Homo sapiens: one gene and its partner. The main gene of each other region encodes a partner of the protein of the gene in region 2 in a complex. Each region holds a gene or a part of one and is shown on either strand. Other genes may lie near its edges.

What was found.
Region 1: the proteins of FGF8 (region 2) and FGFR2 are in contact, whole or in part, in a crystal structure (PDB 2FDB), measured with the Homo sapiens proteins. Residues at the interface, in NP_149354.1 of Homo sapiens: His53, Val54, Gln57, Asp62, Leu64, Ser65, Arg66, Leu68, Ile69, Arg70, Tyr72, Tyr75, Arg77, Gly80, His82, Val106, Glu107, Thr108, Thr110, Phe111, Gly112, Ser113, Val115, Thr148, Glu149, Ile150, Val151, Leu152, Glu153, Asn154; in NP_000132.3 of Homo sapiens: Glu160, Lys161, Glu163, Lys164, Leu166, His167, Ala168, Val169, Pro170, Asn173, Asp247, Val249, Arg251, Ser252, Ser282, Asp283, Ala284, Gln285, Pro286, His287, Ile288, Gln289, Ile291, His293, Leu309, Val311, Leu312, Lys313, Ala314, Ala315.

Annotation. Positions count from the first base shown.
Region 1 is NC_000010.11:121,496,075-121,505,732, forward strand, and holds part of FGFR2 (fibroblast growth factor receptor 2 isoform 1 precursor), read right to left. Parts: intron 7,868-9,658; coding exon 7,716-7,867; intron 4,874-7,715; coding exon 4,752-4,873; intron 2,532-4,751; coding exon 2,421-2,531; intron 649-2,420; coding exon 458-648; intron 1-457. UniProt on the Homo sapiens protein: Tyrosine-protein kinase that acts as a cell-surface receptor for fibroblast growth factors and plays an essential role in the regulation of cell proliferation, differentiation, migration and apoptosis, and in the regulation of embryonic development.
Region 2 is NC_000010.11:101,771,667-101,781,132, forward strand, and holds the start of FGF8 (fibroblast growth factor 8 isoform F precursor), read right to left. Parts: upstream 4,449-9,466; 5' UTR 4,235-4,448; coding exon 4,203-4,234; intron 4,111-4,202; coding exon 4,074-4,110; intron 3,551-4,073; coding exon 3,464-3,550; intron 3,247-3,463; coding exon 3,066-3,246; intron 1-3,065. UniProt on the Homo sapiens protein: Plays an important role in the regulation of embryonic development, cell proliferation, cell differentiation and cell migration. Required for normal brain, eye, ear and limb development during embryogenesis.

The DNA of each region.
Region 1 (9,658 bases), about 20 Mb from region 2:
TTTGTTTGACCTTTACTCTTAGAATATTTAATGCCATATCAAACCCAAAACACTAAACACCTAAAGTCTATGTTCAAAAACTCAGTAACCACAAAATAAATGAAGCTTAAGAAAAAAAAAAAAGAAAGAAAGAAAATCATCCGAATTAAAGGGGGCCTTTAAAACCATCCATTTCCCACCTGGAGAGCTGAATTCCGAGGGAAATCACACATGGTCCTGTCTCAAAGAAGAGGTATCTTTTCTGCTCATCTCTGCAGCGATGCTATAGGTTTATGAGGCTGCTTTGGTTTTAAACAGTTCATTAAACTCAAATGGGAATAACGCAATAAATATTTTCCAGGTTGTACAAGACATGCGAGGGCTTGATCTAGCAAATGAGCATGTCCAAATTGCCTGTTTTCTTTAAAGACATTTTTAGTTGGATTCCACCCAGCCAAGTAGAATGTGAAAGACTCACTTTTTGGGAAGCCAAGTACTCCATGCCTCTGGCCAGCTGGTAGGTGCATGACACCAAGTCCTTGAAGGTCATCTGCTCCTCAGGAACACGGTTAATGTCATAGGAGTACTCCATCCCGGGTGGCCTCCGGGCTCGGAGGTATTCTCGGAGGTTGCCTTTAGAGGCATACTCAACTATGACATAGAGAGGCCCTGTTGAGGAAGAAGAGAAGCTCCCTAAAGAGAGAATCCAGGGTCTCCCCTTGGGCAATTCAGCAAAACATTTTTAGTTATTACAACCCATGCTTTTTTTTTTTTTTTTAAAGTTTAACATACAGCGGCTGGGCGTGGTGCCTCATATCTGTAATCCCAGCCCTTACAGAGGCCGAGGCAGGTGGATCACATGAGGCCAGGAGTTCAAGACCAGCCTGGCCAGCATAGCGAAACCTCGTCTCTACTAAAAATACAAAAATTAGCTGGGCATGGTGACACACACCTATAGTCCCAGCTACTTGAGAGGCTGAGACAGGAGAATCGCTTGAACCCAGGAGGTGGAGGCTGTAGTGAGCCGAGATCACACCACTGCACTGCAGCCTAGGCAACAGAGCGAGACTTTGTCTCAAAAAAAAAAAAAAAAAAAGAAGAAGAAAAAAGAAAAAGTTTTAACATACAGAAAAGCACACATAAAAATATGATTATAATCTCTCCAAAATGATAAATAAGCCCTTGGTCATGATAGCCTCAAAAGGCACAGAGACACAGTTGACGTGCTCTTCCCTGTCACTCTCATGCTGTCACCTGCGCCCTCTTGGAAAGCAATGGATCCCTCCACTCTATCCTTTTGGTTCATTTTAACTATTCAATAAGTAATATATTATTTTTAATCACATAAATGAATAATAAAGCTCTTAGATCTTTGCAACATTTTTTACCCATACATTATCCTTTTGGAACCTGTTGGGCTTATAAAAACAAAACCAGATCATTCCTTTTCACAGCTGCATATACTGTATCGTATAAACACACCACACTTTATTTATCCATTCCCTTATATGCATAGGCATTTGCTTCCAGGTTTCAGCCATAACAAACAGTAGGCAATGAACATCTCTGTACATGTTCCCTTACACACGTGTGCAATAATTTCTCCATGGTATAGGCTCGGGGTTGGCAGACTACAGCCTGCAAGCCAAATCCTGCCTACCGCCTGTTTGGGTAATTAAATTTTATTGGCATGCAGCCAGGTCCATTCATTTCTGTACTTCTAGCACTGCTTTCTCACTACTATGGCAGACACGAGAAGTTGCGACAAAGACCATACGGCCCACAAAAGTCTAAAATATCTACGACCTCCCTTTACAGAAAAAGTTCACCAATTACTATATAGACCTACAAGAGAAATTGCTAAGTCAAAGATAGGCGTTTTCAAGTTTACTAATTACTTAGCAAATTGATTTCAAAGTGCCAGTAAACATTCAATGGAAGAAGCCAGGGTCTCTCTCCCCCAGGGAAAATAACGTATTCCTTCATACCGCTTTCTCCTCTTTTAAGCTATTCTTGGGAGCTCAGCCATCTGTGACCCACAGCAAGATGTGGATTCTTCAATCCCTGTTTTAAGGGAAGAACTTCTCAACCAAAACATAGGATCTTATTCTGACAAATCTCTCTTAGCACTTACAAAACAAAAACATAAGGAGGCTGCCTTTTCCAAAACCCCCTCCAGGTTATGACCTAGAAACAGCAGCGCCCTCTAGGCCCTCAAATCCAAAGTCACCTGCACCCTCCTTTCCACTGGCCCCCAGGTACGGGCACAGACCCTTCTTTGTGTTCATGGCTAGGAACATCTTCCAATGGGGATTTTAAAAAGAACTTTAAACATGCACACAGGGTGCTCTGGGAGCAGGATCTGGAAGCCCAGCCATTTCTAAAATGATTCAATCAAACTGCAGAGTATTTGGGCGAATGCAGTTTTTCCTCCTACTCACCATCCTGTGTGCAGGCTCCAAGAAGATTTATGATATTCTTGTGTTTCCCAATCATCTTCATCATCTCCATCTCTGACACCAGATCAGAAAGGTCTTTCTCTGTGGCATCATCTATGAACAGTAGGCATATTCACAAATCAGTTCATTTCCTCTAACTCATGGGCAGCTACTGTTAGTTGCCAAAGACTTAGTTGAAACAGCATGAAATTGAATTTCAGAATCAGAAAAGATTTTCCAAATCATCTCCCTCATTTTATCGAGGAAGGGACAAAGGCCTACACAGGGAACTGCCTCACTCTGTGTCAAAGAGCTCACTGGGGGGCCAATGGGGCCAAGAGTCAGGACGAGAGCAGGGGCTTCTGACACTAATGCCAATTCTTTCCTAGACCATGAGATAATCTCATCCTCTGCCATATCTAAGGCGTCTCAGAAAACCACACCAAACTTCATGGTGCCTGAAACCAGCGAGGAGACCGAGGGTAGGGCCATTTCAAATCACTACAGACTTGCTCCCGACCAAGCATTCTTAACCCAGCCCCTCGAGGCCCTTAGAGCGTTCCGAGGTGGGTTCAGACGGTTCCCCATAAACAGGGCCATAAACGTGTGTGCATGTGCATTCTGAGCAGGTAAAGGGCTGCGACTTCTAGTGGCTTCTCAGAGGGCACTGCAGTTCCCATCCTAAGAAAAGTTACATAAACTTCCGCTCTGTAATTTCAAGCAAGAATGGCACAGGTTCCACATACGCGGGCTCGCAGTTAGCTTCTCTTAGATTCTCCTAAGTGGCAAGACTTTCCCATGTGCCCTCCACCTCAAGCTAATTCAGTATGGAAAAATCTGGGTTTCCTTTAAAAAAAAAATGAAATATGGGCATGGATAAGAACCATGTTGCAAACAGTTTTTTAGCTTCACAAAAGGAAGATCAATACAAGTGACTGTGTGTGCAAAATTTACACTGATGTATGTGAAGGAGGGAGCCACGGGCCATGAGGAGGGAGGGAGACACAGCCGTGGGCTGTAAGAAAGGACACGCCACAATGGCTTGGGGACTAATATCCTTCTGTGTCCTTACAGGGAAGGCTGCCAGCCTGGGCATCACAAGAGAAAGAGAACTCCCAGACCTCCCTTTTTGCAATATCCCATGTAACTCTGAGCTCCATTAGCAAAACCAGAAGTTCCGCCAAAAGAGATGAGAAGCCTGGGTCCTCCCCACACCTGGCCCTGGTACGCAGCCAGGGGCTGCCTCAGTCAGTGGTGCCATGACACCTGGGGCAAGACAGCACAGTGTTCCTCCCCGGCATCAGGCTCCAAGGTGGGGAACATCTCAAAGCACTCTAGTTTTCCTTGGGAGTCACTCAGATAAACAGCCTTTTAAAAAACCCAAAAAACAAAATGCACATCTTGTTGACAAAGTCCAGCCTGCTACTTCCCCTTGGGAGGGATGTGATGACTATCCCATGAGAACCCACAAAAGAAAGACAAAGCCTAACTCCAGAGCGCCTGCGACATGCCCAGCACCATATCCCAAGGATGGGCCTCTCTGCCTGGAAACGTGGGAAACACTCGGCATGGGATCTTCTTTCCGAGATCCCTACAAGAGGATTTATAATGTGACAGTTCCCTATAACTCTTCTCATAAAAGAATACTGCAGGACGAATAAGTTAATGGTTAAAAGTTCTTTAAGTTCTTTGGACATGGGCATGAAGCAGGGTTGGAAGGTTAACGTAGAAGTGTTCACAGTCCCACAAACACAACACGACATTTACATCTCAGGGTAATTGTTTATGTGTCCCAGGAGGCTCTGCACCAGCCCTGATCCTGTTCACTCCTTCTCAGCTTCTAAGTGACTCTCCCAGACCAGTGTCATTTCTGCTTTGTTCCTCACGCAAAAGAGAAGGCTTTCTGCTCCCTTACGTCTCTTCGTTCCCTCCAAAAACACAAATTTTCTTGTACTTGTAAAGTTAAGGTTTAAGTCCCAAATCTAACACACCAACTCCTAGCTAATAAATTCAATTATATGTGAGTTGATAATTTCTAAGCACATAAAAATACAGAGAGAATGAAGAATTGTGGTCACGAAGAAGGAGTCAAAGAATAACTCTATGTAGGAGGCTACCGCTTTCTAACAAAACTGGCTTTTCTTTATAAGTACACACAGCTCAAGATAAATAGTCTGTCCGAGATGCTGATTTATACCGAAAACTTCTCAACCCCTAGGTCAACTATGTGCTCTCTGACCCCGTGCCATGATAGAGTTCACATGCCACAAAAGGAACTTTCTTGATAAGACTCTCCACCCAGCCCCTCCCCGAGCCTCCCGCCTCCCCGCTCACCTTTCAACATCTTCACGGCCACGGTGACCGCCTCCTTGGGCTTGTCTTTGTCAATTCCCACTGCTTCCGCCATGACCACTTGCCCAAAGCAACCTTCTCCCAGGGGCTTGCCCAGTGTCAGCCTAAATGTGTAAATAGGGGATTAGCACATAGCATCTGGTGATGGGGTGTAGTGAGGGAAATTCCAGAACTAAATATAAAAATCTTTCAGCGGCTTACTAAAGCATGGAGTGCTTATCATATGGAACTAATGAGACTTAGGGTACACACGCGCCTGAGTATTTTCCTAGTGACGTTTTAGAGAATGTCAATTACTGGTGGAACGGCTATTAAATTTCACATTGGTATTCTCGGTTTATTTTCTTTAGGGAAGGTATCCTTGCTAGTGCGGTGGTCAGCTTTCCTAAGTGCCAGAGAAGAGCTTTTGATCTTGAGCCAATTAAATATTTGTAATTTAGAATGGCTCAAAGAAAAAACGTTAAGACTGTTCTTATTTTTTTGTCCCTGTAAAATGGTGGCTTTAAAATTATTATTCAAATACCAATGGATTTTATGGTCACATTCCTTGCCAAGTTACAGGATATGCCTCTTAAAAGCATTTCAAGGAATCTCTAATTTTTTACTAAAAAGAAAATTCTAAAAAATTGGGGACTTTTTTTTTGACATAAGTTTAAAAGTCCTTATGACTACATAAAATTAACAATGAAGAAAATCCAAAGTGAACACCACAAATTAAATTTCTAAGATTACAAGGTCTATGCACATCGGACGAATAGCCATATATTGTCCTTGTGCATTCCAGAAACCAACAAAACGCAAAAGTCTTTGGAATACTTATGAATACGGCTCTTTCTAACTTAAGCATAACACAGCAAAGCATGGAGCTGCCATTAGTAAACAGTATTTAAGGTAAGTACACAATAGTTTGCAAAAGTGCAGCATAAAGACTAAGGGCAGCATGTGCTATGCTGAGGTCATTTTGTTTCTACCCAGAACGAAAATTAAATTTAACATCTTGGCAGAAAATAAATATTTGCATTGGAAAAATGGCTAATTTATGTCCCACCGCCTTGCTACTACAAGCATAACAATCCTTTCTTTGTATAACTTCTGCCTCCGATCTAATAAACTGCTTCTAAATAGCCTTCATTCATTGGAAATCTGTTCCACCTACGTTTGCGCTAAACACTGTTTTGAAATGTTTAGCACTCAGATTTTCCACACTCAGGGTACCCCGGGTGGGAGGTAACAGTTGGGCACATACAGACTTCCACTGTTGACTGTGGTGTCACAGGTGGCAAAAACTATGGACTAAACCCGAAAGCTGCAATTTCTTAAAATATGATCACAACTCCCCAGTTCAGTTATATATATAGGAATGTGCACATGAACCTATCTGTGTATATAATCACACACAAACTAGGGCTGGCGGAGTTCACAAGAAACATCCATTTCTCCACATCCTACAGGTAAAGAAACCATTCTTTGTGTTTTCTCTGGTGCCCCACCAGTAAATGTCCAATTAACATGCCTTGAGTGAATGAATAAGTGAATGAGTGAGTGGTCTTTTCACTACAGTATACAAATCAACTGGAAATTACTTCCATTAACACTCTAACCAAATAATATCCATACAATTATTCAGTCCTAGCTAACGGTACACATCTCTAAATTGGCACTTGGGAAACAAAACTGATGTGACATCACGTGAATCAAAATCAGAAGTGCCAGCCACATAAGCTACCTCTCCCTTCCAAATAGAGCTCATCAGATCAGTCTCTGGAAGAGCTTATCTTTGCATTTCCAAATGTGTATAGGTACACATGAGAAGTGTATATAATCTGAGGAGCTACTGAAAATGTCAAGGCAAACAGGGTAGCTGCTTATAAGCAAGTCAAGAGCTTATTCCAGTGTATGTGATGCAGAAGTAGTCAGCATTTCCACCTTCCCGTACTCTCAAGCTGTGACGACAAAAAGTACCCCAGAAGTGAGTGGACAGCCCTACAATGACCACTGCACTTCCTTTCATAAGGAGGATCTAGGGGTCGGTCCCTGCCTAGAGGACGAGGGCTAGGAGCTCAAATTCTGCCCACTGACTCCATGCCCCACACGATGATCCTGCTGAGGTTTGCAGTTCAGAGCTCCCAGGTTACCACCACGTGAAGGGAAATGAAAGGAAAACTCGCACAAGCCAAGAACTCTGCTCAGTCCTGGGAGGTCTGAACCACCACCCTCATTTTATGAGAATGAATTTCAGAGAATCAGGTGCCTCACCCGAGGTTGCCCAGCCACTGTCTGGCAAAGCCAGGATTCAAATGCAGCCCAACGGAGCTCCAGTACGTGGAGTTCAAGCGAGACCAAGAGATACGTAGCCCCAACACCACCCAGGTGGCCATATTTTGACTAAACATCTGATTGGCACACCTCTGTATCATCCAACAAGGAAAATATTATGGATCACAGAAATTAGATGTCAGGTACCATATTTGAAGCTTTTCAGCCCAATATGACATTAATAACCAATGAGAACAGCAACACTGGGTAGCGGTCCTTAAGGCCATTTATATTCTGCATCTAATTTCTCCACAGAAGTGAACAGAGAACAGTCTTGTTCTAGTAACCAAAAGCTAGAATGTCAGATCTGTTTTATAAATTGGATAATTCTACTTTTATTCCATTTGACGGAGTCTGAATTGCCCAGACACTTAAAAAATGATAACCAGATGCCATCTTCTTTGGGGACCAGCCAGGGGCAAGTAGCTCTGCTTTCAAGGAGTTATTTTTTTTTTTAAATCCATTTTTTTCTTTTCCAGGAGTTGGTTATTTAGAAATACAATCTTACTCCTGCTGACATCATCACACCAAGACCTTTGTGGCTAAGGGTCATAAAAAGAAAATGTTAATCCAATATCCCCATTTATAGCTGAGTCTCCATCCTGGGACATGGCCAAGAGAAGTACTCACTTATCTCTTGGAAACTCCCATTTTGGGTCCTCTGGAAGTTCATACTCGGAGACCCCTGCCAGCATGGGGGTGTCTGCCGTTGAAGAGAGGCGTGTTGTTATCCTCACCAGCGGGGTGTTGGAGTTCATGGAGGAGCTGGACTCAGCCGAAACCTGGATACAAAATGCAAAGACACAGATGTAATCCTGGCTCCATCTGAGAAGGCTGGAAGTCAGCCAGAGCCCAGCCAGAGTATCGAATCTTAGAAAGGAATGGGTTGGGGGCTGGCAGAAGTCAGAAACCAAATTAGAAAACCACTGGAATCTAACTCCTCTGCCCTCCAGTCCATGCAGTACCAGATTTCATCCAAATTTTATGTTCCTATGTTCAGGTTTTTCTATGAAATTTTTCTATACCATCTGATCACAATGTAAATTTTCTTTCTGTCCTAATTCCTCCAGAGAGTCACTTGAGGACATGCAGACAGTCCTCTCTGGCTTCATTAGTGCCTTTATGGTTGTACCTGCACCTGTACTGGAGCCCTGGATAATGGATCCCCTCTCAGACCACCCGGATCATGGATCAATGCTGTGCTTATGAAATTCTACGAAAACTTTTAGGAAATTGGCTCTACCATATTTCCTCTGTCTTTGGAAATGTAAAGTGGAATATCTCAAGGAAAGAGTTCTAGGACTTGAATGTGGAAGACATTCAGTAGCTCCGAGTCCCTTTAACTCAAAATAACCCCAGACCCCAGCATTGGGGGCCATTCTTTGTTTCTCCCCAGTCCTTCTGGAAACTTATTGATGGCCAGGCTATTCAGTGGAAATGGGCTGCCTCTTGTCTTCGGTTTCAGAAACCAGTGCACTAAACACGTGGGATGAAGCATCAATGGAAAGAAAATACACCTTTTCCCATAACCACACAAGAGAACTCCTCTCCCACCTGGCAGTACACAGGGCTCCACCGAGTTACTTTCTTGTTTATCCTGATCCATTTCAGTGTGTCTGATAAAATGATTATTTCTTAAATATATCACTGTCCTTTGGCTGGTTTCTATGGAAAAAAAAAGACTCACACAGAGCACACTGGAAGGCCACTTTTGAGGATGACTACGCAATCTTAGTCTGACCACAGGCTGCTTGAACACTGTCTTATTCTAAACCATGAACAAGACTTTGGCCCAAGAGAACAAGAATGTGAAGTTAACCACGATCCATCTCCAAGCAGGCAACTAGCCCACCCTGGGCTCTGTCTCCTGCGTGACTGCCCAGGTGGATAGTACTCCTGGATGTGCTTACAAACGCCTTCAATCACACTGGCAAAGACTGAGTCCAGATGAACAAATTTAGGTGGGATGAACTTTCACAGGGTGGGTCCTGGGCTCTTCTCACAGGGAACCAGAGGACCTGTCCTGTTTGAAAAGCTTTGAATCTCGCCTTTGTAAACCCAGACTTCCCTCAAAGCAGGCTGGAAATTCAAGAAGATGCCCAAGAATAGATTAGGGGAAGAAAATCATTTTAGGATTAGGAAGTTGTTTTCAGTATTAAAATAAAGAAGTGGGCCATTTTTCACATAGAATTCCTATTATCTTTTAAAACGTACATGAGCACTTCCTGAGCCTTCCATTCAATCTTTTGGCAGGGGGCAGTTATTCCTAAACTTCATTATGCAGATAGTATGAGCAACATTTATTCATTGTATGGTCAAAATGTTTTAAAAGCGGGAACTAAAGAATCATTAATTGTGGAGCTGAGATCCTCACACCCAAGTGTCTGGGTTGCACAAGCAAATGGCAGAAGCAAGCGGGAAAAGACGAGAAGGTAAATGTGGGTGCTCCTGGGGAATCCGTCCTGCTCCCCACTGAGGTCACAGACTAGGCATAAGCCCCACCCTGGATGAAACAGACAACTTTAAAGTCCCCGCCATGTGGTATCCAACCTCACTGTAGTGAGCTAACCTCG
Region 2 (9,466 bases):
GAACCCAAAACATGGACTCCAGCTCCAGCCCAGCTACTAACATGCTGTGCAACCCAGAGAAAGGGCTTTTCTGGACCTCGGGCCCCACCCCTGGGTTTACAGAGGGCAGTGGACGGGATTATGGTTTTCAAACTGGGTTCTCAAGAGAGGTCTTGGGACTATCAAATTGAAAAGGCTGAAGTGCCATTCCTTCCACCCTCTTTTTAAACCAGACAGTGATGTCTCTTAGATTGAGGATCTAAGTAAAATTTAATTGAATCAGAGTTCCATAGCTAATCAAAAGATCTCCGAGGATCCTTCCAACTCCAAATATTATGTGTGCGTGTCTCACAGGTCATTACAAACACTTGGGTGAAGGGGTGACCTCCAGTCCCAAGGCCAAAGATGAAAGCATTGTCTCCTGTTTCTGCCACTTTGGGTTCTAACTCACAGCTTTGGCCACCCCCAGCCCCTCAACATCACCAGGCTCTGCTCTGCTGAGAAGGTGCTAGGGATGGGGACAGCTCTCCCTAAACACACAGCCCAAAGCAGGCTGCTTTCCCAGAACCTCAGACACCTGCCAGGAGGATCCTGCCTCTTCCCTGTGGCTTCCCAGTCACCAGGGTCCCCAGCCCAGTGTCTAGAAATCAACAACTCAATTGTCTTTTCTCTTTCAGCCTCATCACAGCTGGGCTTCTCAGCCCAGTGACCAAATAGCTTCTGTGGGTGAGGAGGAGGGAGAATCCTGCCTGCTGGCCTCTTAGACTGGAGGCCAGGAGGCAGGGCTGAATTCTATGCCTCCTTTCCCATTCCCCTCCCCTTAGACAGCCAACTTGCCACAGAAGCCTGTCCTGTTCACCTCTCTGTGCAATCATCTCTTATAGGCTGTCCTCAAGAAAGTAGTGAGGGTGACTTCACTGTTTAGGAAGGGACAGAAGGCGCTGGCTCTCCTGCCGTCCCTGCCGCAGAGCCCAGCCTCTCCCCTCCCTGAGAAAGCAGTTCTTGGACTTAGCCTGCATTGACATATGGCACCTCCTCTGTCCCTGAAACCCATGGCAGGGGTTTGGGGCATCGAGGTCAGCAAGTCAGTCATCACTGCTCAGCTTGTAATGTTCCCCGCTTCACACAGGCTCAGTGCTGGGACCAGTGGCCAAGCCCCCGGTTTGGCCCCAAGTCAGCAGGGAAATGCAGCTGTCACCTCCCTGCCTGCCCACCTCCTCCTGGACCTAGCCAGTCTGCTCATCCCTCTCCCGCTCTGCCTTCCACAGCAAGAGGCAGCTATTTTTAAGGGCCAGGAAGGATGCTGACTGGAGGAGTGAGAGGATGCCACTCTGGGGATTCTGGCCAGATGCGGCAGGCAGGGATGAAGTAGGTGCCTCTGCATCTTCCTGGGGCCGGTAAAGAAGCCATTGAGACCTCTCTGCTATTCTCCCCGGACTACTCCTGTCCTGGCTGAACACCCTGAGCCTCTGTTCTTAGGGCCTCCAGCTCCTATCCTGCTGTGGGGCAGGGACTAGGGAAGGCGGGAAACCTCTTATATGGCCACGGAGAGAAGTGGACATCAGGCTTCCTCTGATGTCTGAAGATGAATTCCCCCACACCAGCTTGACTTCTGCTTCCCTCCCCGAAATCCAAGGATGCTGGGCCATTTGCTCTGACAGAGCAAACCCTGGAAGAGCCAGGCATTCGTCTCCTCTCCTTAGAAGCTGAGAAGGGCAGCAAGCAGCTAATTTGGAGGGACAAAGGGATGGTAGGCCTGCTCTGCCAGCCCAGTAGGGGAGCTCGGCCACCAGGCAGGCCGCCCCCACCCCCACCCCAGAAAGCCCGCTCTCTCCCATGTCGGTTGAATCTGCTCCGATCTGGGGAGCTGGGGCCGCAGTTTACGGCAGCTCTCCCGACCGGGCTTTTGGAAAGCTTAACATTTTCAAACCTATTCTTCCACCCCAGTGACAGATTTATCCCAGGAAAATTATGTCTCCTCCAGCTTTGAAGGGAAGTCAGCTACGTCGATGCAGAAAAAATGCAGCGAGACATACTCGATCCCCCAAACTGGCTCAAGAAGAGGAGAAAGTATTCAGGAAATGTTAAAAAAGGTGAAAGTAAGAAGAGTTTTAATCGCTCTGCCAGACGCAGGGGTCTCTCCAGAGATTCAGAGAGAACAATCTTGAACCTCTTTTTTAACATTTACAGACTTGCAACTCCTTTCAAACTCCACATCTGAAAAAAAGCTCGTTCTTTTTCTGTTTTATATCATTCTTCATTTTTCTTCTTAGCTCTTAAAATGCCTCACCTTTTTATTACATTTTAATAGAGTCTTCCCCTCTCCTTTCATGCTTGTTTAACGTGGTCATTATTTAAAGGTTTTTAAACTCACAATAATCGCTCTCTAAAAACAACACCAGCCGCCCAGAGGGCTTGCTTTTCTCTTGGTACATCCAGGACTCTGGAAATTGGCCCCGTTTCAAGGCAGGAATATTGAATGTTTTAGAAATCAATCAGTCCTCAGCCTCTCTGCCGGCAGTAGCTCTCCGCACTTGCCACCCCACAGGGAGCCGGGAGCCCTGCCCCAGCCGCCTGGGTTCCCCAGGGAATGGAGCAGGGAGAGCCCCCTTCCAAGCCCAGTTTCCACGTGTAAATTGACCCATCCGATTAAAGTATTTAAGGGTTCCCAGCAACCTCCTTTTCCAACTGGGAGAGTTGAGGGGATTTCTCTCCCTTCTCTTTCCCACTCTCCTTTTGTGGGCCCTGGCGACATATCCTCTTTCAAGCGCTTGCCTTAAACCTAGGCCCCCTCCCCCTGAACCCCCTGCCTCCACCTGCAGCTGGGGAGGAGTGTATGAAGGGGGGAGGTGTAAAGGGAGATTCCTAGATTCATTCATTTGCTGGGCAGGGAAGGGGGCACCTGTGGCCAAGTACTCCCCGAGGCCCCTTCCCTAGCCCTCTCTTCCCCAGCTGACCCTCAAGACACCTTTCTGCCTTAACTCCTTCCCTTCTGAGCTGGGGACCCTGCAGGCCCCCGGCCAGTGCAGTTGGGACTGGTGGTCCAGGCGCCGCGCATCCCACAAGCTACCTTCAGCGCGCCTTACCGAAGGGGTCGCCGTCCTCTGCCATGGCGTTGATGCGCTTGTTGGCCAGGACCTGCACGTGCTTCCCGCTGGTGCGGCTGTAGAGTTGGTAGGTCCGGATGAGGCGGCGGCTGAGCTGATCCGTCACCAGGCTCTGCTCCCTCACATGCTGTGTAAAATTAGGTGAGGACTGAACAGTTACCTTTAGGAAATTGAAAAATACACAATACACCATTATAATGCTACTCCGCCCAGGGGCCCGAGTGGCCCCATCACCCTGCGTCCCCCTCACTGCCCCAAGCCGCCAGCAGGTGCTGGGGGTTCCCCCAACATGCCAGCCCAGGCCACCATCCCCCACCCACGCAAGTCGGGCAGACCCAGCCCAGGATGAACGAGCCCCAGGGAGAAGCTGGACCCACCTGTTGGGAGACACCCTGGGGCTCCCGGCCAGCCCGGAACAGGGAAGCGAGCTCCCTGCCCAGCGCAGGGCCCCTGCCCGGGCCTTCCTAGAGGAGCAGGGCGCTTTTAAGTAGGGAGGCAGCCCTCCCCGACCCCTGACATTTATAAAGACAAATTTACGGAGCAAATGTTGAGAGTGCAGGGAACCTGGGCACCCGATCATTGGGCCAAATCGGCCACAAGCCTCCCCCGAGGGGCGCTGAGAGGGTCTCTGCTGCAGTCACCCGGCTTCCCCTGGCATCGAACATCCATCCCCTGGCCGCGGCTGCCCCCTTCCTCGGCGGCTGGGTGTTCCCTATGCCCCCAGCCGGCGAGGATGCATGGGGGACAGTGCTGGGCTCCGAGACCTTCGTTTCTATCCTGGCCACTCACTCGCTGTGTGACCTCAGGAGGGGTGCTACCTCTCTGTGCCTCAGCTCCCTCCTCGGGGTGGCTCGGGGCTGGGTTTCTAAGGTGCCCTCAGCCCTCCCGCGCCGGCCGCAGAGTCAGTCCCGGTGCCCCCGACCGGCGCTGCCCACCCGGGTCTCACACCGGCGCGCCCGGCCCCCGCCTCCGCGCACCCCTCCTCACCTGGGCTTGGAGGCAGAGGACCAGCAAGTGCAACAGCCTGTGGGAGACAAAAGCGGGCGGGAGAGAGAGGCGCGGGTGAGGCGAGGGGCGCGGGGGGCGGGTGGCGGGGCAGGGCGGCGCGGTACTCACAGGCAGCTCAGCGCGGAGCGGGGGCTGCCCATGGCGCGCGGCCCCGGGGCACCGAGAGCCCGGCGGGTCACGCCGTCCCGCGGGCCGCCGCGGGAGGACGCGCTGAGCAGGGCGCGAGCGGAGAGGGTGCGGGTGCGGGAGGCCGGCGGCGATCACGACGCGGCTCCGCGGGTCCCGTGGAACGTCGTGCTCGCCGCGCCGCACCGAATCGCTGTGCGCCGCTGCCGGAGCCGGTGGCCGCTGGCTGCTCGGGAGCCGGAGCGGGCGGGAGGGTCACGGGCTGGCGGGGTGGGTGGGGAGGTGGGAGGGCGGGGAGGGGTGGGGGCGGGGGGCGCCGCACCGGGCGCGAGGGGGGAGCGCGGGGCGGGCGGCGGGAGCCCGCAGCCCCCGGCTGGGAACTGGGGCCTGGATGCAGCCCGGGGCGGGGGCGGGGCGGCCGGGGAGGGGCGGCCGACGGGTTCGGGATTGAGGGTCTGGGCTAGGGGAGGGGTCTGGGGACCCGCGGGAGGGGCGGGGGCGGCCGGTCTGGGCGCCTCCCCCTATCCCCGGCCTGTCCCCTCGCGCGCTCCCCGGTCCCGGACGCGCGGGGATGGGGGCGCCTAGGGCTGCAAACTCTGCGGGCCGGGAGACCCCGAGCCTGGGCTTCCCCGACCGCCTGGAGCGCCCGAGTCTGGCGGGTCTGGGTCTCCGCCTCCGGGCCCAGCCGCTTCCGCCGCCGGCTACGCAGTGGTCTCCGAGCCACCTACTGTGTGTCCCGCCGGGCCCCTGGGAGCGGCCGCTAACCATGCAGCGAATGGCTGCGCACCCGGCCCTCGCGCAGTGCGTGCCGGTGCCACCCGGACCCCGCTCCCCTGTTTCGGCCGCGTGCCCCGTCCTGTCGGTCTCTCCAGTCTCCTTCACTCTCCCGAGGAGGCCCTGGGAGCCAGAAATGCCTCCCCCTCCCCCCATCCCATTATCACTATCACCCCTTCCCCTGTGCCCCTCACCACACACACACACACACACACACACACACACACACACACTAGCCTGAAGCTTGAGGAGCACCCCGAGCCACCTGTGTGGAAGAGAGAGTCCGGAGGTCCCTGGCAGGACCCACTGTCCCCGTACCTCAGCAGGCAGCAGGGGCAAAAAAACTCTCAGTAGCTTTTACTGGGGGAAGGGACTTCCATCCAGGCCACCCAGCCCTTTCCCCCTCAAAGCCCCACTCGTTTTTCATTTCACAGGTATTTACACACCTACTGTATTCTAGGCAGGGGCTGGTCAGCTGGGCTTGGGGCATAGGAGAAGGTAGGCACTTGTCTAAGCCTTTCCTAGCCCCCCACCTTGTGGCTTCCCCCCTGAGGTTTCTGGAAACCCTGAGCCCCCATGCTGCTTCTGTGGGAGCAGCCTGGGTGGACAGAGATGCTCTGGGACAGGTGCCTTGTGAGGAGCAGGTGATGCCCTACCAGACTGCTGTCTTCACTTACAACCTCCCCTTCCCCAGTGACCCTCCATTCCCCTGGGGGTAGGGCTGGAGGGTTTGGTGTGGTCCCAGGAAGCCATTAGGCCAAAATTAGCGGCAGCCCTAGTCCAGCAGCACAGCCAGGCCCTGCCTCCCTCCCTGCTCTGTGTCCCACCTTTCCCTGTGCCCCATCTTTCCAACTCCCAGCCATAAATGCAAACACTGAGCAATGGAGAGATGGGAAAACAGTTAGAGGGTGCGTTCCAAGATCTTATCCCTCCTCAGAGAAGTAGACTTCCAGAGCACACTTGCCATCCTCCTCCAGGAGTCTGTTCAGTGGGCTCTTGCCCACACAGACCTTGCCCACAAGGACCATGTCTTATGAGCTCAGAAATCACAGCTCGTGGCACAAGGCTGGGCAGAGCTGTTCTGCAATTAAGAGTTCGTTGAATGAATGAATGAATGAATGATGGGGGAAGTGGCTGAGCCTGTAGACTTCAGCCTATTTGCAACTTCCCCAGGAAGACCTGCCTTCACCTCCTCCCAACAGATTATCACCAGGAACACCACCAGTTAGTGAGCACTTGTATCTGCCACAGGCTTGGCAGGCACTGTCTCCTCTAAAGCCCATGGGGAGGTGGGTCCATCAGGCGGAGACAAGTCAGGTGGACACAAGTGGCCACAGCCCAGGCCAGCCCTTGCCTTCCCTGTGTTCTGTGTAAGGCCTGAGTCACAATTCATTGAGTGTCTGTTTCCCTCTCTGCACTGCTTCAAGTGGGCAAAGGTTATGTCTGTTTGCTTGTGGTCTTACCCTCATCCTTGTACACAGTAGGCCCTCAAGCATGTTTAGTTGCGTATGTCGATGAACAAATGATTGAATGGAGAGATGGAGAGCAGGCACTTCCTGTAAGAAATGGGCTTTCTCCCACCATGGACTCTCTGAACATCAGTGAGATAAGCAGAGCAGGGAGTAGGCCCCAGGCAGGGGTGAGGGTGACCCGCCCATCCAACAGTGTTTGCATGGTCCTGGGGTCACAGCCAGAGCCACTCTGGGTACCTGCCCCTCCCTGGAATGGGGGTAGGGGCAGAGCCCCTGGCTGAGACCAGCATTCAGCTCCAGCTGTGGAACCCCCAGAAGATTCTGAGGGCCCTGGGTTGACCCTCAATGGTCTTCAGCCACCCTTCTTCCTCTGCCCCAGAGAAGATGGGCGTCCTGGGATCTGAAGGGTCCGAGGTCAAGTTTCAGTCCTGTCCCAGCCTCTGCCAGGGAGCCTGTGCTGGACCAGGATTCCTTTACATTTGGATTTGGAGACCCTCCTGAGAAGCGGACCCTCACCTAGTTCGTTGAAATTCTCATCTCCCCAAAAGTCCGTTTCTCTGGGGGAGAGGAGCAGATGGGGACACCCCGGGAGCAAGCACCTGGCTCTGCCCTGGCACGCCCCGTGACTGACAGATGCAAATGTCCCGCCGGGCCCCCGCAGGCCGCTCCCTCCCTTGCTGGCTCGCCCGCCTCCCGGCCAGCTCCCTCCCTCCTTTATCTTATCAAAGCCCGGTAATTACAATTGCTATTTTGTTTCCTCGAATCTGCAATCAGAGCTCCCTGGCCCAGATGAGGGAGCGCCTGTCAACCTGATCGCTGAGTGACAGCCCGGCCACCTTTCCTGGCCGCCCCCACACTCCGCAAACACAAACACACACACGCACAGACACAAACTCCCTCGCCTGCAAACACAAACACACACTCCTCGCCAACACAAACGGCCCATCTCCGCAGACACGCCCTCGCCTGCACCCAGACACACTACTTCAGCCTATTTCCAAACGCACCCCTCGATCCCAGCCCATCCCCCGGCCCCTCCAATCCACACCCGCCGGAGACCGCAGCTCGCTCCGACGCGCGCTTCCTGCGCCGGGCGTTCAAAGCGCCGCGGACTCACTGCCGACCGTTCAAATGCAAATCGCCGAGACTACGTTAAGCACTTCGGCCACTGTCTGGGAGTCGTCTCCCTCGGCCCCCAAATAGAAGCCTGCCCTTCCTCCAGCAGTCGGCAAACCCCGGCGTATGCCTTCATCCCCCAGGGGTCTGAGGCCACAGTGAGCCGGCAGCGCTCCTACTGTGCGCTGAAGGGCAAAGAAGAGGGCTCGAGGAGAGGCTGGGGCGAGGAGAGAGGAATAAACCTTGCCCAGCTGTGTCCGCGGGGCGCCCCAACCGGCCGAGAAACTCTTGGGCCGAGAGGCTGATGTGGATTGGGCCCCCACTGCGGGCAGGAGCGTGCTCGGCGCAGGCCCGCGCCCACCGGGAGACCTACCCGGAAAACCGGCGAGAAATGCAAGGAGCGATCAGTGGCATCGCGGGGGGTGGGTGGGGTAAATATTGGGGCGGAGCCGCGCAGGGGGTAGATGGGTCAGCTAGGGAGGCCTCCCAGGAGAGAGGACTCAGCCAGTCTCCCGCTCCTCCTGCCAAGCACGTGCCGAGGACTTTGGAGGCTGGGGCCAAGAAGAGGAAGGGAAAGAGGAGTGAGGGCCACAGCCAGACTTCCCCACTCCAACTCAAGTCGTTCGAATGAATGAATGAACGTATGCACGCATGCATGCAAGCCTCAGTGGCATTCCCCCGCCTTCCGCCCAAGATTCGGCCGCCCAGAGCAGTGGCGGGACTCGGAGGCCCCGGCCCCACGGCGCCCGCCCGGAGCCTCTAGAGGCCAGGGAAGCGGTACGACCACGAGCGGCTTCAACCTCGCCCGCCAGAGGGCGCCAGCCCCGACTTCCCTCTCCCTGCCGACCGCGCTCCGCAGCGAGACCCATGGTTCCCAGCCAGGCCGCCCCTCCGCCGGGCTCCCCAGGGAAGCATTTTTAGCAGCGCCCTCCTGGATCGGAGAAAGGCGCCTGCGACCCAGATCACCGCAACACAGACGGGCGTCATCTCCCTTTGTCCTCAACTTGAGGAAGAGGGAGGTTGGAAACTGGACCCCTAGTTCCTCACCACGGGCTGGGGGAGAACCTCCTTCACTAGGGATGCGCTGAAGAGCGTGCGGGTCGGTACTGCGGACGCAAGGTCTTCAAAGCTGACCTCACCTGCCCCAGAACCACCAGCCCGCGATATCCCGGGGCCCCTCCCCCTTGACTAGAGGCTGGGAGTGGGAGTTGGCCTGACCCCCATCAGGCCCTGTTCTCTGTCTATCCTCAGCCTGTCTGGCCCCAGGTTGTCTGGGGAGGCAATGTTTTGTTTGTTTGTTTGTTTGTGGGCATTGACAACCCTCCCCCCACAACCAACACAGCTGCTGAACTGCTGACCCCAGAGCTGGTCACATACACTCATCCTCAAACCAGGTGTGTCAGTTCTTCCTGGCACAAAGGCAGCCAAGTGCCAGAACTACCTGATTCCAGGCACCAAAGACCCCCAGACCCCACGGTGTGTGGGGGACAAGAATCCCTTAGTCCAGGAGGCAAATTCCCTGGGGCCCCTTTCTGCCCCCATATGCCAGGCCACCCGGATTCTGGTTTCCCTGTCACCCAATCTGGCCAGTCCCCTCCATCTGGCCCCCGGAGTCAGGTTTCTCTAAGGGCCCAGCCCTGCTCAGAGACAGCCTGCAAGGCTCAAAGGAGGAGCGAAGCCTGGTCCCGCCCTGCCCTCACAGGCCCTCTCTGGGCCAGAGACCCTCGTGGGGCTAGGGACGCGCATTCCTCAGGCTGCCTAAGCTCGCTTATCTGCCCCCCTGCCCATCAGCCGAGTGCTGACAGAGGCCCAGACCCCTTGTTTGGATGCTGATAACCTCCTGCGATGACCCTCTCCCACCTGCAGAGACTGGGAATGGGCTGA